Regions from separate parts of the Homo sapiens genome. Here all the other regions are reported to be linked to region 1. Evidence: microRNA targets listed by miRTarBase, many of them from high-throughput screens and not tested one by one. Region 1 holds a microRNA gene; each other region holds the end of a gene's coding sequence. Distances are from middle to middle.
What was found. The annotated mature microRNA hsa-miR-149-3p reads AGGGAGGGACGGGGGCUGUGC and lies in region 1 at 1,732-1,752, shown strand. An mRNA with a match to its seed (bases 2 to 7 or 8) in the 3' UTR can be bound and repressed. Matches are read on the target gene's strand: a 7mer-m8 pairs with bases 2 to 8, a 7mer-A1 pairs with bases 2 to 7 and ends in A, and an 8mer does both.

Region 1 (3,476 bases):
ACCCCCTGGGTCGTTTGTCCAGTGCACCCTCACCCCAGGAGGCTGCTGGACGTGCCGGAGGATGCCACAGCCACCGGAGCTGGTTGGGGTCCGAGAGCAGATGGGCCAGGGGCTGGGGCAGGCTTCGAGAAGAGGGTTCGGGCTTGGGGAAAGCCTTCGCAGCCATCGGCCAGCCAGGAAGGCCCCGTTGCCGGGTGCAGAGCTGAGTAGAGGGCAGGAGCGGGGAGGCCTAGGCTCTTCCCTTGCGTGTTGGGGGGCTGCGGTGCCTGGAGCTCTGCACACAGCCCTACTCCAGCACCGTGGGAGGCAATGCAGGCTGACTGTCCACGCCAAATTCCGGTACCTTAGGCATTCGAGTCTGTTGACACTGAGTGTCTAGGACGAGGCTGTAAAGGTGGATAAAGCCGGCTTTACAGTCTGCACCTCCTGTGTGAGCCGTGGAAGCTTCTGGAGGGATGGGCGTGGCGTGGCGCCATCATCTCTCTGCATTCTCCTTGGGAGGGCTCCAGAGCCACTGGTCACGGGCAGCTGCCAGGCTGGGTCTGGACAAATGAGGTCTGGGTCCATCATTGGGGATGGGGGCCACTGTCAGGATGGGAGTCTCGCCTAAAGCTTTGGGGTGAAGGTGCTGATGACCAAGAGGAAACTGCGGGGTGGGGACATGTCAGCAGGGGACGAGAATGCATGACCTAAAAGGTATCCAAAGTTAAGGCTGGTGGGGGCTTAGTGAGGAGCAGCAGAGTGGGGTGGTCCAGAACCGTCAGGATCGGGAGGGGGAAGATGGAACGAGACAGCAGCTGCCTACGAGCCAGGGAGCAAGAGCTCTGTGCTTTAACCTGAGGAGCAGGAGCCTGGGAACTGGAGACTCTGGGTTTGAGGTGGGGGATGAATCTGCCATTAAACAAATAATCCCCTTCCCCCCCAAAAAAATCCTCAGAGCACTGGGGAAGGGAAGTGTCCCAGTGACTGAGGGAGGGGAGCGCTGTGGAAGGATGGGTCGGCTACAGCAACTTCAGCCCAGGGATCAGGGAAGAGAGGGTCCAGTCCCTGGCCCAGCGGGGAGCAGGCCCGGTGACCTTGACCTGAGCAGCCCCAGGGCCAGAGGGAGGGGTGGGCCGGAAGGGCCCAGATGCCTCCCTGCACGGGGGGAAGGGGATGGGCTGCCGGGACTCACCCCCTAGGTTGGAAAATGCCTCCCTCTGGGTTGGAGGAGGAGAAAGGCCAGGAAGGAGAGGGAGAGGGACATGGGGAGGGTTCCCTCCTGGCCTGAGGCCTCTCTATCCCCAGGTGTTGAGCTGAGAGAAGTGGTGGGGAGGCCCCTGGGGGTGGGGAGGCCCCTGGGTGGGGAGATTTAAGATGACAGCTGGTCTTGGGCACATTGCTCTCCATTCAGAAAGGCCCCAGCCCCTGGCATTCTTCCAGGAGGGGGCTTGCTTTGCCGCCCTGCAGGGGGACTCTGCAGAGCCGGCCTCTGCCATCTCATGTCCAGGACCACAACCTGTGGCCCCGGCCTGCGCCGGGCCGGAGCTCCGCAGAAGGAAGCCAGCGGGAGGCCTCCTGCCTTTGACTGCCGTGCGTCCAGCCTGCAGCGGGCCTCAGGGGGCCGCCTCGATCCAGCCTGCCCGAGGCTCCCAGGCCTTCGCCCGCCTTGCGTCCAGCCTGCCGGGGGCTCCCAGGCCGGCGCCCGAGCTCTGGCTCCGTGTCTTCACTCCCGTGCTTGTCCGAGGAGGGAGGGAGGGACGGGGGCTGTGCTGGGGCAGCTGGAACAACGCAGGTCGCCGGGCCGGCTGGGCGAGTTGGCCGGGCGGGGCTGAGGGGTCGGCGGGGGAGGCTGAGGCGCGGGGGCCGGTGCGCGGCCGTGAGGGGGTGTGAGAGGTGGCTGACGGCGCCGAGGAGCCCCTCAGAACCTGCAGGTGGGGGGAGCTCCCATATCTTACGGGTGTTTCGGGCCTCACCTCTCCATGCCTCTCGTCAGCCTCTCCCGTCTGCGTGGTGGGGGCTGGGGAGTGGGTCCGCCGGGACCTCGCGAGGGAGGGGCACAGGAGGAGCCGGCGGGGGACGCCACCCACCCTCCTCCCTAGGAGTGCTTGAGCCCTAGTCCTGAGTCTTGGACCAGCTCACTCGGTTCCTGTGGCCCAGCCAGCCTGGCCTGGGTGCCCCGTCACAGCTGAGCCCATCTCAGCTGAGCCCAGGGTGTGTCACCGGGAAGCTCAGCTGGCACCTGCCACCCCCTCCCCCAGGCACGTTTCCCTCCCACTGCCCAGCCCATTACCATCATGTGTCCGGCTGACCTGTGCTCTCCTGGTCTGGGCAGCCTGGATGGGTGCACAGGGCCCCATCACAGCCCACACCCTCGGAGAGACGCCTCCTGAGTCTGCTCAGCCTGGCACAGGCCCCAGGAAAGGACCCGGAGGGGCGGTTCCTGCTCTAAATCCTGCCCCCACGGGGGTGGGACTGGGGCAGAATCCCATCAGTGAATAAAGGCTGCAGAGTGAAGGATGGTCCCTGGCGAGTGTACCTGTGTCCCAGTCTTCTTGCCTGAGGGCGCCTTCCCACCCATGTGAGGAGTGGGGAAGGAGCACCCCTTCTCTACTAGGCCCCAGGGCTCTCAGAGCCGGGCTCTGTCCTCACCCCAGCTGGCTCCCACAAGGCCCTCCTGGCCCCAGACTCTGTTGGACCCCCAACTCCCCCTCCAGCAGGCATCTGGAGGTAAGGAGGGGCGGGGGGCGCAGGTGCACTTGCCATTCCCGCTCTGTCTGCAGCATGGGCACATGTAAGTCCAGGCCCTGGGGAATCCCTGGACCTGCAGCCCCTGCGGAGGACTCCCTCCCCCTCTAGCTCAAGCCAGAGCCCCCTGCATCAGTACATTCCAGAACTCAGACAGGAAAAGAGGGCAAGGAGGGAGCGCTCCAGGATAAGAACCCCTACCTCGGCCCTCCCTCGCTCTCCCAGGCCCCTCTGACAACCTGTCTCCTTGCTGTCATGTCAGCAGGCACAGAGGCTACAGGGGCCAAGCGGCAGCCGCCCAAGCCCGGATTCGGGTTCTCTGTTCCCTTCTCTTGTCTCGGGCTCCTCCCTGAGTGTGTGTACTTAGAGGGTGCGGAAGATCAGCAAACTCAGTCTGACCCAGGCATTCAACCTCTGGGTAGTTACCTAGTCCTGGGTCCCCACCCCAGATGGCCTCTAGTGGGTAAGGGCTTCCTGGACCCCAGGCCTGAGGGGTGACTTCTCTTGCAGTAAGCGGGTAGGGCACTGCCTGCGCTGCTCCAGGCCCTGCCTGCAGTGGGGCTACAGATCCCTGCTCCCACCTCCAGGCAGGGCTGGAGCTGCTGCCAGCTCCCCCAGGACAGCCTCGAGCCAGGTGCCTCTGCCCGGGCTGACCCCGCCCTCGGTCCCGGTCCTGGCTCCCTCTCCTGCCTCTCCTCCCTGGCCTGGCCTTCACTTCCTGCTGACCCTCAGGAGGGCGTAAAAGAATG
Region 2 (3,416 bases), not on the chromosome of region 1:
GGAATCACATGGTTGCTTGGTGTCCTATGCTCAAGCATTCTATCTTATCAGGGCCAGTAACATGCTAAAAGTTGCTTCTAACATGGAGCATGTTTCTCTGCTGTGGACTCCATGGCCTTACTCCTGATCCCAGGCCCTGCATTCTGACTTTCCCACTGATGCTTGGTTCAGCTCCATCCTGCTTCTTTCCCCAGACCGCCACCTCCAGCACCAGGGGTCTGAGGGATGGTGACTGACTGCACCACAGCCTGGGTCTGCTGCAGTGTCCTTTCCAGTCCAGGCCCCACTCAAAGCTGGCCTCCTCCTATATCACCCAGAGTGTCAGCCAAAGCAATAAACTTAGATGTGGAATGTGGTGTTGCTAGAACCCAGAGAGGCTCACAAGGTAGTGTGCATCCTTCCTTCTGGTGAGGATGCAAGATGCAAGTGTGTCTTTTACTTTGTGTGTGTGTGTGGCGGCGGGGAGCTCTGCATGCCCCTAACCACTGGACCCATAACACTTCACTGCAGTGGCCACTCTTGAAGCTCTGTAAGTTTTATCTTCACCTTCTGTAGTGCACATGTTTTGCCAGGGAATTCAGCGTACTTTCCTGCTGTTGTTCATCCTTCCCAATTTATGTGATATTGCCAATGAAATGAAGAGATTTAGTATTCTGTGGGATGTCTGATTCGTCCAGGTCTCTTAAGGTGATATTTATAGAAGGTTGAGGAGTTAAGGTAGCCCTGATGCAAGCTATCAATAAATGTATTATAAATCCCATGTGAATGTGAATCATTCCATATCCATCTTCTAAATGAAATGGGAGGGAATGCACTCACCAAATCCACAGCTGCTTGCCATGTGCCTGAGGCCTTATTAATCTCCCCAGGCAGTGATATCCAGCCAGCATGGCAGCTGCAATCAGGACTCCTACTTGGTCAAGTCTGGAGTAATTCCATTCATTCTTTAGCCATATCAGGCTTCTGCAGGTACAGATTGCTGAGTTATATGGAGATAACAGGCAATCCCAACACCACCCCACATCGTTCAGGTCTGTAATGGCAGTGCCACCCCTATAATACCTGCAGTACCCTCCACAAGACCCACCCTGAGGCACAATATTGCTTCTGGTTTGGCTTGGATGAGGGATGTTTCCCTTTGGGCTTCAGCACAGTGAGATCCCTTACTCTCCAGACTAGGGACACAGTGTGGGGTGACTCCAGTTGCCAGTGCATCAAGGCCAATTATGCACTCAGAGAATGGGGAGATAACCAGGACAGGATTTATGGAACTGGTGATTCCACCATGGGGCATAATGTATCTAGGTTTATTCCCTGGCCTCTGTAAGCCCCAGTGTGATGGGGGACATAATGGTGCTGTAGGAATCTGGGCAGCAATGTCAGCTCACACCCAATGTTAATACTTATCCCATCTCCTGATTAAATGGCTATAGGCTCCTTTGCAGAAGGGCTGATGGAATTGTCCCAGCATATAACCATCATCGTGTCCCAAGGTTCTTTCTCTTAGGGATATAGATATGTCCTTAGTCACTGGATTCTGAATCTGAAGCTTGCTCCTCAATTCCACATGCTTATCATAGATATCAAGCAGTGCCCTTGCTGTCTGCCCATCTTTTCTGACCCTGGGACACCACCCTTTATTAACCTTCCCCACAACTCCTTGAAGGTCAAGCCCCCTTGGCTGATACTCTGGGTTATCACAGTAAATGTGCCCTCTATCTTTTGCAGGTCACTGAAAAGGAGGGTTCCTAAAGCATTCACTCCTGACCCTGAGGGAGGTGGGTGCACTCACTCCAGGACTCAGGTTCACCACAGATAAGCAAAAAAGTCCTCACATTCAAAATTGTCCTGGGCCACATGCAGCCCACGAGCCGCGGGTTGGACAAGCCTGCATCTAGAACGTATGCACCATAACCCCAGACATTTTTCTGTTTTTACTTTAAGGATGCTTTCTAAATGCAAAAGCAGTCATATCCCTAGCAGACAACAAATGTCAGTTGAATGAATGATCACTGTAGAGCACCTCCCTATTCTAAAGCCCATATCTTTATTAATGTAGCCACAGGGCAAATGCTGTTTTGTGGCAGCTAAAGAACATAAGTTCACGTGGACATCCATGCCGCCAGTGCTTTTCTCACCAGGGCTGCTTGTATGTCCTCCCTCCTCCCACACCAACCCTCCTGCACACTTCAGCACAAAACCATATATTTCTCTTCAGGAACAATAACCCTAGCCTTATGGGTACAATTTTCCAACCACATATGAATCTAAATTAGACTCTGCTTTATAAATCTATGAGTTTGGATTGGAGCCAGCACTAGGATTACTACAACTCAGAGCAGGAAGAAGAGTAGGAGGGCAGAAGAGGAGTTCCAACAGAAAGTTAACCATGATGAGAAACTATGGGACCCCTCCTCTCTGCAAATGTCACAATCTGGTTCCTTTAAAAAGATTGGAGAAAAATCGAAAATACCATTAAGGAAAAAGCCCTGGGAGGAAGGCAAGACCTGGACAGGTCTGAAAATTTGTCTCTTGATACCACAAGGAGATTTGTATGCAGGGACCACCCTAGGTGACATCCAACTCCCTGTGATCACAGGTCTTGGTGGGACAAGGTTCTACTGAAGGGCCAAGGACAATGGAGCAGCAAAGATGACCCAGGTGAGCTGTGACCACATAAAGCCCATGGTGGCCAGAACAGAAACTGGGCACAGCCCCATCTACTCTCCTCCCCTGCAACAAATCAGCACAAGAAACACGTGGACTCTGGAAGGTTCTCATGTCTTCCATTTATTTTGTCTCTCAAATTTTAGGAATCTTCTCCTTTAATTAACTCATCAACCTCTCATGGCAAGAATTTGAGAAAGTAAATTTATACTAAGGTTCTAATTTTAATAGGGAAGGAAGAAGTTACAGCTCAGTGCACCATGAAGTTGAGACAGAGATGGAGACACCTCAGCCCCACCTCTCTGGAACAGGAAAGATGATTGGGGAGGGAGCACAGGTCAGCGTGGGAAGAGGGTCATGGTGGACATGGGGGTGGGGTGGTCTCCCCACCTCCTCACATTATGCCTACACGAACACAGACACATGCAGGTGCCTTTGCAGAAACAAAGTCAGGGTTCTTCAAGTCACAAAGGGAAGGGCAGGAACAACTCTTGCCTCTCAGTCCCACACAAGGCAGCTGTCTCACACTATAGAAAAAAATATTCATGAACAAATTCATATCCATCACAGTGAGGGGTCACACCTTAAACAGCCCATCGCATGCTCAATACATCCAATGCAAAGAAACCCCATAGCACAGCTGTGTCCACTGTTCCGCCCAACACCCAACACACATTAGGTCCTCCAAGCTCTCACCTTTACAAGCTGTGAGGGACACATCAGAGCCCTGGGCACTGTCACTGCCTGGG
Region 3 (3,459 bases), not on the chromosome of region 1:
GTAAAACCTCGTCTCTACTAAAAATACAAAAAAATTAGCTGGGCATGGTGGCATGTGCCTGTAATCCCAGCTACTCGGGAGGCTGAGGCAGGAGAATGGCGTGAACCTGGGAGGCAGAGCTTGCAGTGAGCTGAGATCGTGCCACTGCACTCCAGCCTGAGTGACAGATCGAGACTCTGTCTCAAGAAAAAAAAAAAAAAGTCAAAATGTTAATTACATGACCAGAAGTGTTGGTTTTATATAGTTTTTTCAATTTTTCCATACATTTGAAATTTTTTTTTAAAGTTTCTTTTTTAAAAACCTGTAAAATAAAACTTGTGATTTCCAGCTGCCCATGAAAACTTGTAACGATCCGGCAGGCTTGGACCTGTTCCCAGTGTTCCAGCCCCTCCCCCTGGCTCTCACAGCTTGGGGGGTAACAACCTTTAAGCCTGTGAGTCTGCATCTTGGCCCGGTCCAGTGCCTGCATTTTACAGATGTGGAAACTGAGGGCCAGTGAGAATCGACTTCCCTAAGATGGTGCCTGAGCAGGGTCCACAGCCAGGCTGCCCACCTTGCATCCATGGCCTTGAGCGTGGCACTGGCCGCTCCCCACCCTTCCCCGCGGACCACCGGGGCCCTCCCTGCCTAGGGATGGCTGGATCCTGTCAGGCAGTCAAGTTGCCCCAAGTAGGATCACAGCCCCCACCAGGCTTCTCCTGACCTTTGTCCTCCTGGAACCTTCACCCACGGCACCCCAAAAAGCAGGTGCCCTGCTCTGCCCCAAGAAGCAAACAGCCATGCACATAACCAACAACATGGCAAAGTGGAAGGAAATCGTCTCAATTGTTTATTCGACTCACAGTCAGTGCACACACTCTACCATCCAAAAGTCGAAGCTGTGACAATCGACTGCTACAGGCAGTGCATGGATGTGTAAACAAACACAAATGAAAATGCAAATCAGAGTGGGCGGGGCCAAGGCCCACTGTTACATTCACAGCACAGGGTAAGTGCAAAAGAACAGGATGTCAGGATGGGGGGCGGGGAGCACAGGGTCCTTCCTGCCCTGGAGGCTGCCTCCAGGCATCAGCCTGGGAGGTGGGTTAGTGCCCATGGAACCCTCCTGCCCAGGAAGCTGCCTCCGGGCATCAGCCTGGGAGGCGGGTTAGTGCCCATGGATCCGGTGTCTGGGAAGGGGCCCACAGAAGATGGGCCACACCCAGCATCATCTCCTCTCTGTGGTGCGCCCTCCCATCCCCAGACCCCTTTCCCATTCAGGGGAGAGGGGCCCTGGTCACAGGAGCCAGTCCTCTGACCTCCTGAGTGTGGAAACCCAGGAGGGGAGTGTGTTTCTCCTGCAGGCCTCTCAACCTGGAAAGGGCAGAGCCACAGCAGAACGCGTTGGGGCCACAGACACTCGCTCAGGTGAAGACACTGAGAAGACACTGCCGGGCTGACAGGACCCCGCGGCGGGGGGACGTCGCTGCTAACAGGACTCTCTGCAGGCCCAGGGGAGGCTCTGCCCCCATGAGGCCCCAGGAGCGTTTGTGCGTTGAACTGAAGGCAAAGTGCTGGGCAGTTTCTTGTCCTAATGAAGGTGGGGAAGCTGGTCCGGCCACATACATCCTCTGACCTCCCCCAAGTGGTCCCCGGGCCCACAGGTGACAGGGGCCTGAGCGATCCCTGGTCTGAGCCCCCAGCTCAGAGCCTAGCACCACCCAGGGAGGTCTGGGCTCATGGAAGGGGGATGGGCGGGGGCAGGAGGGCCCAGCCCCACCTCCGCCCGTCTTTGGTGGTGACAGAGGTGGGAGGAGAAAAGACGATCTTTGGTAGGGCGAGGGAATGTCAAAGGACACTGTCAAGGGCCCAGTTCCTGCTCAGAAGAGAGCACAGGAGTGGGAGGCCCACCTCTGCCCCATCTCTGGATGGCCCAGGCCTGCTGCCCACTAAGGTGGCCCCACTCTCCTTCTCTGGAGTTGCAAACTCTCTGAGAAGGCGGTTGAGGTGGGGAGGGCATCAGGACAGGCCAGCTGGATGCTGAGACCATATAGCCACAGGTGGCTTCTAGCTCAGGACACTGTGACCTTCACCACAGGGCTCTAGGCCCCATCCTTCACCTCCACCCTCCCAGCACCCTTGTCAGCAGCCCTGGAGCGATGGGAGGTTTTGGGGTCCCCCACCTGGGGCATCCTGGCTCTGCCTGTCCCAATTCTCCACAACAACCCCCTCTCTCACAGCCTTTCTCTCCCACAGGCCCCACTGGTCCTGGCCTCTGCTTCCCCCAGGAACCGTTCTTCTCCATGGAAATGTCCCCTCTGGGCCTTGGGGACTCCCAGATGATGGGGGTGGGGCAAAGTCAGGGGCAACGGCCCTCAGCCACCACAGCTGTCAGATACCAACCCAGGGAAGGGAGGAGGAGCCTTCTCTCTGCCACCCCCCAGCCCGTGCCGCCTCTACTGCAGCTCCCCCAGGGGCCCATTCTCTCGGGGCAGCGCCCCATTCACGCCTGCGCTGCTGGCCGCGGGCACCCCCAGGTACCCCAGCAATATCTCGCTGCGGCGCCGGGACAGCTGCAGGATGTCGTCTGCCAGCGCGGGCAGTGACGTGTAGCGCACATTGTCCAGGTCGAACATGTCCCTCAGGTACTGCACAATCTGGTGCTGGGGGAGCAGGGCTGGTGTCAGGCCTGGCCCAGCCACTGCCCACCATGATGCCCCCCAGGTTACCTGAAGTCCCCTTGTCCACCACCAGAGCCCCAGCCGGTCCTTTCCATCCCCAGGCTCCTCCCTCCCACTGCTTCCTCTGGACCCATGTGGGTCTGGCTCTGCCCTCTCTCTGGGAGCAGGCCCAGGCCCAGGCCCTCATCCCATTCCTGGCACCTCCCAGGGCGCCTGTGCTCAGGGCAAGGGTCAGGAAAGAACGAGAACTGCTCTCTGTTTACCTTGAAGAAAGCACAGACTTCAGCAAGCTGAGGCTTGGGTCCAAGGAAGCCGAAGGCTAGGACAGGGCTCACATGCTCCGATACGGAGTAGAAATGGGAGATGAAGCCATCAGGCACCTGCGGTGGGCACAAGGCTGAGGGGCCAGGCGGGGCCCAGGTAGGATGAGGGCACCAGGCCCAGGTGTCGCATAAAGGGCTGGGCTTTAGAGGTCGCCCCAGCTCATGTACTTTCCTGCTAGATGACCCTGGGCAGTGACTCAAGCTTTCGAAGCCCATTTTAACTTCTGCAGACAGGGTAACCATGGGCCGCTGTGAGTACTGCAAGAGGTGGGGCCATAGTGGCTCCGCGGGAAGTGCCTGGAGCACGTGGCCACGGCAGCTGGTATCAGCTAGGCAACAGAGCCTGGCCCGCAGAGGGGAACGACAAACCACAGGCCAGATAGCACAGCCAGTCGCTGCCTGGGAGCGGAGATTACAGGGGCCTGACTGGGGCGGGGAAAGGGCAGGAGGGACAGGGCTCTGCTTGCTCCTGGGTA
Region 4 (3,392 bases), 150 Mb from region 1:
TGTTGTCCTGCCCAGCCTAGGGGAAAAGTATCCTGAAGGTTAATAAGGTGGTGGAGGAACATTAGGCCACAGGGAGCAGAGGGAAAGCATAACAGCAGGGGATGATAAGGGTGATTATAGTTTAGAAAGCATGAAAGTATGACTTAAGGAAATGTCTTTAGGTTGAACATTCTGTATATAACCTGCCTTTCTAAAGTTTCAAAGGGGATGGATACCCATCAGGGGCAAAGATCCAAATCCTGAGGGTAGAATGAGGAGGATGTATACTAAAGTCTTTTGGCTAAAAGGACATTGATAGCCCATTTTTAGAATGGCTACAGTTGCAACCCAACTCTACCCCACTGAACAGCTTTTATTACCAGTATTTACATGACCACTTTTTCTTTACACCTCACCCTACCCCAATATCTTCCTTGGGAAAATTGGTCAGAGAGGTGGTATACTAACAGTTTGGGGAAGGGCAGCATCCTTGCCCATATTTAGAAAAATACTTTTTCAAGTGTCTTCTCCCAAGTAACTCTTGGGACTTTTGTTACCAGTCAAGTAGGTACAGTGAGTTTGGCAAACAACATAGTGGCAAAGTATCTTCTATTGTGTTACTATGAGAGAAGATCTGCAAAAGGATTGAAAATCAGCATCCCTCCCACCCATTCTTACAAAGTAATCAGGGGACCCTGTGCCACAGCCATTGCTTGCCCATATAATACCTTGAATGAATTAGAGATTTTCCACCAAACTCCATTTGGCCTCCTCAGTGGTGGGGGAGGGTGGCAATCTGCTTGACAACTAACATGTCGGCCCTGTCCTGGTCTATCCCTAACTAGATGCTAATACAAAGGTTGAAAATACAGATATAGGTAGTAATGAAAACAGATTTGGCTGGGCACGGTGGCTCACACCTGTAATCCCAGCCCTTTGGGAGGCCAAGGCAGGTGGATACTTAAGGTCATGAGTTTGAGACCAGCCTGGCCAATGTGGGAAACCATGTCTCTACTAAAAATACAAAAATTAGTTGGGCGTGGTGGTGGGCACCTGTAGTCCCAGCTACATGGGAGGCTGAAGTGGAAGAATCGTTTAAACCCAGGAGGTGGTGGCTGCAGTAAGCCAAGATTGTGCCACTGAACTCCAGCCTGGGTGATAGAGTGAAACCCTGTCTTTAAAAAAAAATAGATTCAAGAGGTATCCAGGAGGTAAAATTGATGGGACTTGGCAATTTTAAGAAATGCAAGGAAAAAGGAAGAGTCAAGGCTGATGACCTAGAGATAACAGCTTGGCTAAGGTACAGAGCTGCCATTCAATAATAAAGAATAAGGAAGTCTGAGTTGGGGATGAATGTAAGTTCTGTTTAGGATGAACTGAGCTTGATAGCCCTGTGGGATATCCAGGTGGAACTTAGACCTATACGTCTAGGGCACAGGAAAGAAACCTAGCATCGTTGGAAATCCTGGAGTAGACACAATCATCTGAAGTATGTATACTGAAAAAGCAGTTGCTTAGGAAAGAACCCCCGGAACACTGTCCAAGGAGGAGTGGGGGAGAGTATGGGAAGAGAAGCCTGCAAAGAGATGCAATCATTTACAGAAGTTACTGAGACTGCCAATTTACTACCGGTCTCTGCTACAAGTCCATGAGCTCCCAAAGCAGGGATCCTTTTTCATAACCCTGCATTCTCGCTTCCTAGCTCAGTGCCAACCCTTTGAATTTTCACTGAACTGAGGAGCTTCCTGAGTTACCCTTGTATACCCCAACCTACAAAATGTCTAAGCATTCCCTAATCCCTTACTAAATTTAGTTAATTCTTACTTTACCTCCCCTTCTGCTCACCAAAGGCTAGAATAATACCAAATACTAAGCTTATTTTTAGAGAAAATCTAGCAATCATCTAGATTTCCTTATTTAACTTTGATGCTGCTATTCTGACTGCTCTCATAACTGCTAGTGAAACACTGGGTGTATATAGATAATAGGAACAAAGAAGGAACCAAAATTGCAATGAAGATAAATTACTTTGTGTGCATTTACAACCTGACCACCATCCAATTATACTTTTAATTAAGAAAACATGTTTTAAGCTGCATTATTTCAGATTATCAGTGATTCTGAAAATTACAAGTGGCAGGGTGCAGGACCTTAAGTCAAATAGACGTTAAGTTCAAACCATCAGTCCATTCGTCACTAGCTGTATGTCTTCGGGCAAATTATTTTACCTCTCAGCCTAATGTAATAATGCAGGTAACACTGCTCACGCGGTGTGTTGCACATAGCAAACACTTGGGAACAGTTAGCTATTCATCGTGGTACATTAAATTGCTTTTCCCCAAGAGCCACTTTATTTATTTATTTTGAGACGAAGTCTTGCTCTGTTGCCCAGGAGTGCAGTGGCTCGATCTCGGCTCACTGCAACCTCCACCTCCTGGGCCCAAGCGATTCTCATGCCTCAGCCTCCTGGGTAGTTGGATTACAGGCACCCACCACCACGTCTGGCTAATTTTTGTATTTTTAGTAGAGAAGGGGTTTTGCCATGTTGGCCAGGCTGGTCTCGAACTCCTGGCCTCAAGTGATCTGCCCACCTCAGCCTCCCAAAATGCTGGGATTACAGGCGTGAGCCACGGCACCCAGCCCCCAAAAAGCCACTTTAAACCTTATCCTAGGAGGACAGTTTCACATTGCGTCTAACCTCTTCCTGGCCTCTTAATCTTGGGTTGTTAAATCTTATTTGCTTTATTTCCTTGGTTCCTCTAAGTTGTAATCTCGGAGTTAAAAACAGCTTTAGAACCCCGCCCCCCCAAAAAAAAAAAAAAAACTTTTGAGAATTTTTTTCAAATAAATGTCCATTGCATAGAATGGGTCTGTGACTGGCTGCTTCTACATCTGCACCCAACATCTGGCCCCCTTCAGAACTCTGAGTGGACAGGATCAGGATTTGACTCAGGAGGATTAGAATGTGAAGAATCCGTGTTTGAGGGATTCAGTTCTCCAACTGCCTCAAAGGGTCTCAAGTTTGCATAAGTCACCTCCTGGGCCAGCTGCTCCAGGGAAGGACGGCCTAATATCAGATTTCGAAGTGAGATACAAGTCATCAGGAAGCTGAAAAACAGGAAAAAGCCGACCAAGTTCAAACTCCTGTTTCACCAGAAGAATTTCAGCTAAAGCCCTTAGAAGGCACCTGGTCCTCACTCCTCCCACACAGGCATATATGGGAATCTCCCCCCAAGTGACCCTCCATCTCCCAGCTGGAAGGGTACACCACTCTTTATACAGTCTGGTAGAGGATTCCAGGATAGGGTAGGAACAGCCCACAGAGAGGCTGGAGATAAGCTGAGGCAGAACAAGAAAGCAGGCCATCAGATATAGGCCACTTATTCTTCCAGTAAATCAAGAAGAATGGCAGG
Region 5 (3,476 bases), not on the chromosome of region 1:
TCCTTGCTGTGGGCCTCACTCCCCTCTCCCTTATCCATAGGCCTGAGGGAAGACATGCTGGAGACCCTGGTTCCCAAGGCAGAGGGTGACCGTGTGATGGTGGTGCTGGGCCCACAGACTGGAAGGGTGAGTCTCAGACCTGGCAGTAGAGGTTTGTGGGTCGTTCAGGGCCTGTCCCAGGGTCTAGGCTTGCCTTGCTGATTCCACTTCACCTCTGTTCCAGGTGGGACATTTGCTGAGCCGGGACAGAGCACGGAGCCGGGCTTTGGTGCAACTGCCAAGAGAAAATCAGGTGGTGGAGCTTCACTACGATGCCATCTGCCAGTACATGGGCCCTAGTGACACAGATGATGACTGACCCATGGGACTCCTCCCATCCCCCAGGCTGGTACCAGTTCTGTACCATATGAGAAAGTTGCCTTCAGAAGGTGGGAAGATCATTGTTCCATCCTCTACTTCTGGTGCAGTCCTGGGACAAGGACAAGGGAAAGGGATGGGTGAACCAGTAGGGAAGCTAGAAACAAACCCAATATTTACCAAAATTTAGGGTATAATAAAAACCATTTCAAGTACTTAATAGAAAGATGAAATCATAAGTGGTATGATGAGCTGCGAGTTAAGGTGGGAACTGAGTTGACTGAGGTGGGAACCATTTCACTTTTCAGCCTTGCTTTTCTGCTCAGGGTACAGGACAAGTTAAAGGACTCATTTGATTGTGAGCTCACTCTTGGAATATAGATACTATAAGCTTGGGCACAGTGGTGCATGCCTGTAATCCTAGCACTTTAGGAGGCTGAGGTGGATGGATCGCTTGAGCCCAGGAGTTCAAGATCAGCCTGGCCAACAAGGTGAAACCCTGTCTCTACTAAAAGTATAAAAATACAAAAAATTACCGAGGTATGGTGGTGCACGCCTATAATCCTAGCTACTCAGGAGGCTGAGGCAAGAGAATCGCTTGAACCCAGGAGGCAGAGGTTGCTGTGAGCCCAGATTGCGCCACTGCACTCCAGCCCAGGGGACAGAGTTAGACTCTGTCTCAAAAAAAAAAAAAAAAATCTTTAGATGCTGTGGAATCTGAAATACTGTATCTCTGAACAACTTTCTGAGCAAGAACTCTAGCAACTAGCAGCAGAGTATGCTTTCACTCTCAGTTTAGAGCAGGACCCCAGAGAATATGCTGAGCCTGGGGTCTTCCTCTGTTGCCCAGACTGGAGTGCAGTGGTGCAATCATAGCTCACAGCAGCATTGATCTCCTGGGCTCAAGCGATCTTCCCGTCTCAGCCTCCCAAAGTGCTGGGATTATAGGCACTGGAATGAGCCACCGTGCCTGGTCTCTGGCTTGTATTTTGTTAATCGTAGGGAGGATGTTCCCAACTTCTCATGTCCAGTAGTCCATTTCCTATGCTTTATGCACTTCACTCTGTCAAGGAGGCCTCCTCCTTTCTCCAATCATAATAAACCAGCCTTGGTAGCACCTTTGAGAAGGGCTAAAGCTCCCCAGGGAATGGCACTGGGGCTCTGTCTCTGCCTGTAACACAACATAACCTGGCCATTTCAGACACCCTCCATCTCCTCCCCGTGCCACAATGCTAAAGCAGATATCTCATCAGCTTCAGATTTCCTGGAATTCATCTTTCTCCTAAGCCTACGCTTGAAAATGGGGCCCAAAGTTCTTGAATATGGCCCTTTGTCCAGAACACCTAGCTCCAGCCAAAGCGCCTGGTCTCCCTTGACAGGCCACTGGGACTTTTTCTGCTTTACCTTGAAAGGAGCCCTGCTGATCCCCATTTTGAGGACAGGGCTCCTTACATTCAGGGAAGTGTGGACAATATAAGGAGGCCTTCCCAATATGCCCTTTGTTCACTGTGCACAAACAAAGCCTTGTATCTGAAGACACTTTGAATCTGTGCAGTGTTCTCTCAGCTTGCTGCCTGGCACCTGCCTGCTGCCAAAGTTGCTCTTGCGGCAGTGGTTACTGCAGCAACGGCTTCTGTGAGCCCGAGAATTCTCTACAGGCCCCTCACAAGCTGGGGACTGTGACCTGTACAATTTGTCCAGACTGGCTTTTTTCACATCACAGGGATTGAGCAAGAGGTAGATTAAAAGGCATCTGCCTCTTCTGCCAAGCCCCCAGAAGTTTCCCTGGCAGGGGTCTGCTTCTGTTAAAAATTGTCCAGATGCCAAGCCTTGAATTTGTAGCAGCAGACTCAGGAAGCAGTTTCTTTGCCTTTCAGAGAGGAGTCAATTATTGAGGTGCTGTGGGTTGCTGTCTGGGCTGTGTTCAGTGGCAGATATGGACAGGTCAGCTCTTCTTTTAAAAAATTTTTTTTAAATAATTTTTTATTTTAAATATAAGAGAGACAAGGTCTCACTATATTGCTCAGGCTGGTCTTGAACTCCTGGGCTCAAGTGATCTTCCCATCTTGGCCTTCCAAAGTGCTGGGATTATAGGCATGAGCCACCACTCCTGGCCTCAGCTCTTTTTTTTTTTTTTTTTTTTTTTTTTTTGAGATGGAGTCTTGCTCTGTCGCCCAGGCTGGAATGCAGTGGCGTGATCTTGGCTCACTGCAACCTCCACCTCCCAGTTTCAAGTGATTCTCCTGCCTCAGCCTCCTTAGTAGCTGGGATTACAGGCGCATGCCACCATGCCCGGCTAATTTTTGTATTTTTAGTAGAGACGGGGTTTCACAGTGTTGGTCAGGCTGATCTCAAACTCCTGACCTCGTGATCTGCCCACCTCGGCCTCCCAAAGTGCTGGGTTTACAGACATGAGCCACCATGCCCAGCCTCAGCTCTCTTTTCTAACATTCCTTCCTCAGTCAAGGGAATGCTCCCCTCTACTCCCACACTGAGGCCACCTCTTCATCTCCATGTCTGCAGCACCACGCAGAGGGATGAAGTATCCAACAGCTTCTAAAGCTATCTAAGTGGGGGCGGGTCCTCACCAAGTCCCCTATCACACCAATTCATTCAACAAACATCTCTTGAGCTCCTACTGAATGCCAGGTACCATCCTGCATGCTAGGGGAACCGTATGGAGTAAATCACTTAATATCAAGACCCTACTATATGCCAGGCAGCATCCTGGGTACCGAGTATGGAGCTACAAACAAAACAAACATCCTTGCCCTTGTGGGGCTGACACTCCACTGGGGCTGAGACAGTGAGCAATAAGCAGAAGTAAGTGATGGAAGATGTTATAAGAAGCTGAGAACCATGGGGGAAAGGGGCAGTATTAATAGGATGGCCACAGAAAGCCTTAGAGAGAAGGTGACATTAAGCAACGGTATTAAGGAAGTAAGGGATGGTCATGCAGCTATCTGGGGAAAGCGGTCTAGACAGGGGAAATGAAGTGCAAAGGCCCTGTGGTAGCACTGTTGCTAGCATGTGTGAGGAACAGCCGGGAGGCTGGTGTGGCTGCAGGGGAGTAAGTGAGGGAGAAGGTGGTAGGAGGTCAGGTCAGGGAGATCCTGTAG
Region 6 (3,388 bases), not on the chromosome of region 1:
ATCACATGTCACTAGTGGCGTGGAATTCCCTCAGGGTTGGCTTCCCCTGGGGACCCCAGCAGCCCCTCATCCCTCAGCCCTGCCCCCTGTTGCTCCCATGGGAGTAAGAACAAAATCTGAAGTTTGTTATTAAATCGGTTCCATTTTTATTGGATTTGAACCAAATACAGCAGGATGAGGGGTGGGGGTGCTGAGGGGTCTTAGTTCATGTTGGGATGGGGTGGGGGGCTCAGGGGGCTGGGAAATCCTAATATACGGATGCTCTGTGAACCCTAACCTGGCCGAGAATGCACCCCCTCCTGTCTTTGATAGGCTAAAGGCACTTGGATATCAATTCTGGGGGGCCCTTGGGGTTGTCATGGTAAGCAGAGTCAGACAGGTGCTAAGAAAAAAATTGGTTCTGCCCAATTCAGGGGTGGCGGTTGGGGTTGCACGAACTTCAGCCCTCACTCATGTCGAGCCCCCTGGGCCATCTGTACATCGTGGTGCTGGCCTGGGCCCTCCCGGCCACAGCTCAGGGAGAACGGGCTGTTGTCTCCTTCCAGCTCCTTCTGAAACTTTTGCTCAAAGCCTTCAGGGCTGAGCCAGCTTTCTCTCTGTTTCTCTCTGGCTGATCGATCTCAGAGCAGTCTTCAGGGATCCAGGATCCAAGTCAAGCCATCAAGCTCATCTGCAGGCCTGGCCTCTGAATACAGGGTAATAGGTTTGACCCTCAGACCCATTTTACAGATGAGGACACTGATGGTCTAGGTGGTCTTCAGTCACCAGCTGAGATCACATAGCCGGGCAGGAGCAGAGCTGCTTTTGAGCCCTTCCCGCAAAGTCCTGGAGGGTCTGTCCTAACCTCTTGGTTGGCAGCCAAGCCCCTTTCTGGCTGAGGTTTTGGCCCAACAGTGGTTCCTGTCCCTGCCCCCAGCAATGTCCTAACTGTCCTCTGGAGGATGTGGAGGGGAGGGGCAAGAACTGGCTGTGAGGAGGCCAGGTCACAGATGGTCCCTGTGGTCCCGGTCTGGTGCCTGAATCCTTCTGCAAAACCTCAGCTCCTGCTTGTTTGCCCCCCGTGACAGGATGCCCACCATCTGCAGAGCAACCGGGCGGTGACCTCAGGGAAGCTCTTCCTTGACCAGAGCTGCAGTCGGCCTGTGACCCCAGCTTTGGTCCTGGATCTGCCCCACCTCTGCAGGTGCAGAGACCCAGCTTCCTCCATCACCTTCTCCCGAGGACCCGGGTCCAGGCCTCCCTGCAGGGTGAAGCCCTTGTTCCGGCCTTGTTCTTGTCACTACACTGCACCGCACGTAGCCGGGATCCCCGGGAACCCCCTGTGCTCTTTGGTCTCGTTCCCCACCTGAGCCACGGGTCAGCAGGGCCGGCCATGATGGGGCCACGCTCAGGGCTTGTCTGAGGCCGGCTCAGAGGTCATGTGTACCTAGGGGCAAAAGTCCCTCCAGTAGACCCATTTGGAAGGACACTCAGCACCCCAGAAGCCATGGTTCTGGGCCGGGGCAGGGTGGCCACCTCTCCCTTGTGGGGTGGCCCTCTCTTGCCTGCTGTTCTGGGAAGCACGTGGCAGCGGAGGGAGGCGGAGGGCTGGGGTGATGGCTCCTTCTTGTGGACAGCCCTGCTGGGCTGTGGGGAGGACGGAGGACAGGGCGTGTGGACCCCTGACTGTGACCACCGTGTGTGCTGGGTCCTCAGCAAGACCTGAGCCCAGGCCCCGAGGTCGGCTGGGAGATGCTCAGCTGAGCAGGCGCTGGGGTGGGCTCTGTGTCCCAGGTGTGAGCTGTGTCTCAGTTATGCGTTGTGCCTGTCCCAGGTGTGAACTGAGCATGTCCCTGGTGTGAGCTGTGCTCTCACGAGAGCCCTGCCTGCCTCTGTGGTCAGCTCTGGTGCCCAGGGCTTGGTTTTAGTGTCAGCTGGGTGTGAGGGTGTGTGTCTCGGGTGTGAGCTGTGTGTGTCCCAGATGTGAGTTCTGTGTTCTGGGTGTGAGCTGTGTGTTCCAGTGTGAGCTGAGTGTGTCCTGGGTGTGAGCTGTATCCCGGGTGTGAGCTGTGTGTTCCACTGTGAGCTGTCCTTGTATCAGGTGTGAGCTGAGTGTGTCCTGCGTATGAGCTGTGTGTCCCGGGTGTGAGCTCTGTGTTCCGGGTGTGAGCTGTGTGTCCCGGGTGTGAGCTGTGTTTCCCGGGTGTAAGCTGTGTGTCCCGGGTGTGAGCTGTGTGTTCTGGGTGTGAGCTGTGTGTGTCCTGGGTGTGAGCTGTGTGTCCCGGGTGTGAGTTGCGCCTGTCCCGGGTGTGAGCTTTGCTCTCACGAGAGCCCTGCCTGCCCCCTGCGGTCAGCTCTGGTGCCCCGGGTCTGGTTTTAGTGTCGGCTGGGTGTGAGGTGTGTTGCACCTGTGTGATTGGGTTCCAGGTGTGAGTGTGTCTCTGGGTGTGAGGTGTAGGACGGCCAGGTGTGAGCAATGCAGACTTTCTGCGCACCCTCCCCTTGGGGCTGTGGGGCCCTTTGTGGGACCCGGGTGTCCACCGTCTCCCCGATGCGATCTGTGTACAAAGGGCTGGGGGAGCGGAAGCCCAGGGCTTGGGGGCAGCAGTCTTGTGCCTCCTGGGTGTGAATTGCGGGCCCTGAGGATCCTGGGGTCTCTGAGCGCCCCCAGCCACCCCGGGTTGGTAGACGGGAGCCCATCCCCCCATCCTTGCAGCCCGCACCCCCACCCCCCAGCTCAGCCACCATAGCAGGGACAGGAAGACGGGTTGAAATCTTTAGAAAACGCTTGAGAAACTGCAAAAAAGACGCATGCTGATGAAAAACAGTCCTGCGGTTGGGCGTCTACAAAAAAAGGGGAAGTTCTGCCTGGGGAGCGCCGTGCAGCCGTCCCCTTCCCCTCCGGGAAATGCATAGGTGGACACGCGAGCGGCCGGCCCGCGGGGGAGGGGAGGGGAGGGTCCGCCCTGGGGACCCCTCAGATCATCTTCATGTTGAACTTGCGCGCGCCTCCCTGGCCCGCCGCGGCGGCCGGCCCATCCACCTTGCGGAAGGAGTACTCCACCGAGAAGTTGTTTTTGTGCTGCCCGCGGCCGCGGCTCCACACGAACAGCAGCACGAAGCAGAAGAGGACCACGCCCAGGAAGGTGATGCAGCCCATGGCGGTGGACACCAGGATGGTGGTGAGGTCGAGCGGCGCGCGCAGGGCCGCCAGCGTCTCGTTGTGGGCCTCGCCCGGGGTCCGGTTGGCGGCCGGCTCGGGGCGCACGGTCAGCGTGGCGAAGTAGGTGTCGTTGCCGCCCGCGTTGCTGGCCACGCACGTGTAGGTGCCGCTGTCCTGCGGCCGCGCGTCCTGGATCTCCAGCGTCCCCCCGGGGAGCACGCGCGCCCGGCCCGCGCTGGTGGCCGT

Region 2: the mRNA of HLA-A is a reported target of hsa-miR-149-3p. Seed matches in the 3' UTR shown: 7mer-m8 at 2,991-2,997.
Region 3: the mRNA of MIGA2 is a reported target of hsa-miR-149-3p. Seed matches in the 3' UTR shown: 7mer-A1 at 2,140-2,146, 7mer-m8 at 1,990-1,996, 7mer-A1 at 1,879-1,885, 7mer-A1 at 1,788-1,794, 7mer-A1 at 1,137-1,143 and 7mer-A1 at 1,075-1,081.
Region 4: the mRNA of GGCX is a reported target of hsa-miR-149-3p. Seed matches in the 3' UTR shown: 7mer-A1 at 1,050-1,056, 7mer-A1 at 917-923 and 7mer-m8 at 762-768.
Region 5: miRTarBase lists GPKOW as a target of hsa-miR-149-3p. Seed matches in the 3' UTR shown: 7mer-A1 at 370-376.
Region 6: the mRNA of LINGO3 is a reported target of hsa-miR-149-3p. Seed matches in the 3' UTR shown: 7mer-m8 at 2,933-2,939, 7mer-m8 at 2,928-2,934, 7mer-m8 at 2,923-2,929 and 7mer-m8 at 950-956.

What each region holds. Positions count from the first base shown.
Region 1 is chr2:240,454,325-240,457,800 of GRCh38, forward strand. MIR149 (microRNA 149) reads left to right here and starts at 1,677; the gene lies at 1,677-1,765. The region is part of intron 1 of GPC1 (glypican 1); the gene reads left to right. GPC1-AS1 (GPC1 antisense RNA 1) reads right to left here and starts at 2,376. Exons shown (of 3, transcript NR_161169.1): 1 at 2,273-2,376. RefSeq lists an enhancer at 977-1,627.
Region 2 is chr6:29,945,229-29,948,644 of GRCh38, reverse strand. HLA-A (major histocompatibility complex, class I, A) reads right to left here. Exons shown (of 8, transcript NM_002116.8): 7 at 3,364-3,411; 8 at 2,775-3,194. The coding sequence ends at 3,190. It overlaps LOC124901298 (a long non-coding RNA gene), which reads left to right and starts at 3,052. Exons shown (of 3, transcript XR_007059541.1): 1 at 3,052-3,416.
Region 3 is chr9:129,069,430-129,072,888 of GRCh38, reverse strand. It overlaps MIGA2 (mitoguardin 2), which reads right to left. Exons shown (of 16, transcript NM_001329990.2): 15 at 2,924-3,040; 16 at 807-2,642. The coding sequence ends at 2,436. Among named protein-coding and RNA genes, the nearest start is that of DOLPP1, 10 kb to the left of the region's middle. RefSeq lists enhancers at 146-1,095, 1,096-2,045, 2,993-3,132.
Region 4 is chr2:85,547,040-85,550,431 of GRCh38, forward strand. It overlaps GGCX (gamma-glutamyl carboxylase), which reads right to left. Exons shown (of 15, transcript NM_000821.7): 15 at 1-3,087. The coding sequence ends at 2,895. Among named protein-coding and RNA genes, the nearest start is that of MAT2A, 9.6 kb to the left of the region's middle.
Region 5 is chrX:49,110,503-49,113,978 of GRCh38, reverse strand. GPKOW (G-patch domain and KOW motifs) reads left to right here. Exons shown (of 11, transcript NM_015698.6): 10 at 41-126; 11 at 224-572. The coding sequence ends at 358. Among named protein-coding and RNA genes, the nearest start is that of GPKOW, 11 kb to the left of the region's middle.
Region 6 is chr19:2,287,042-2,290,429 of GRCh38, forward strand. LINGO3 (leucine rich repeat and Ig domain containing 3) reads right to left here. Exons shown (of 2, transcript NM_001101391.3): 2 at 123-3,388. The coding sequence ends at 2,957. Among named protein-coding and RNA genes, the nearest start is that of PEAK3, 6.6 kb to the left of the region's middle. RefSeq lists a silencer at 2,885-2,994.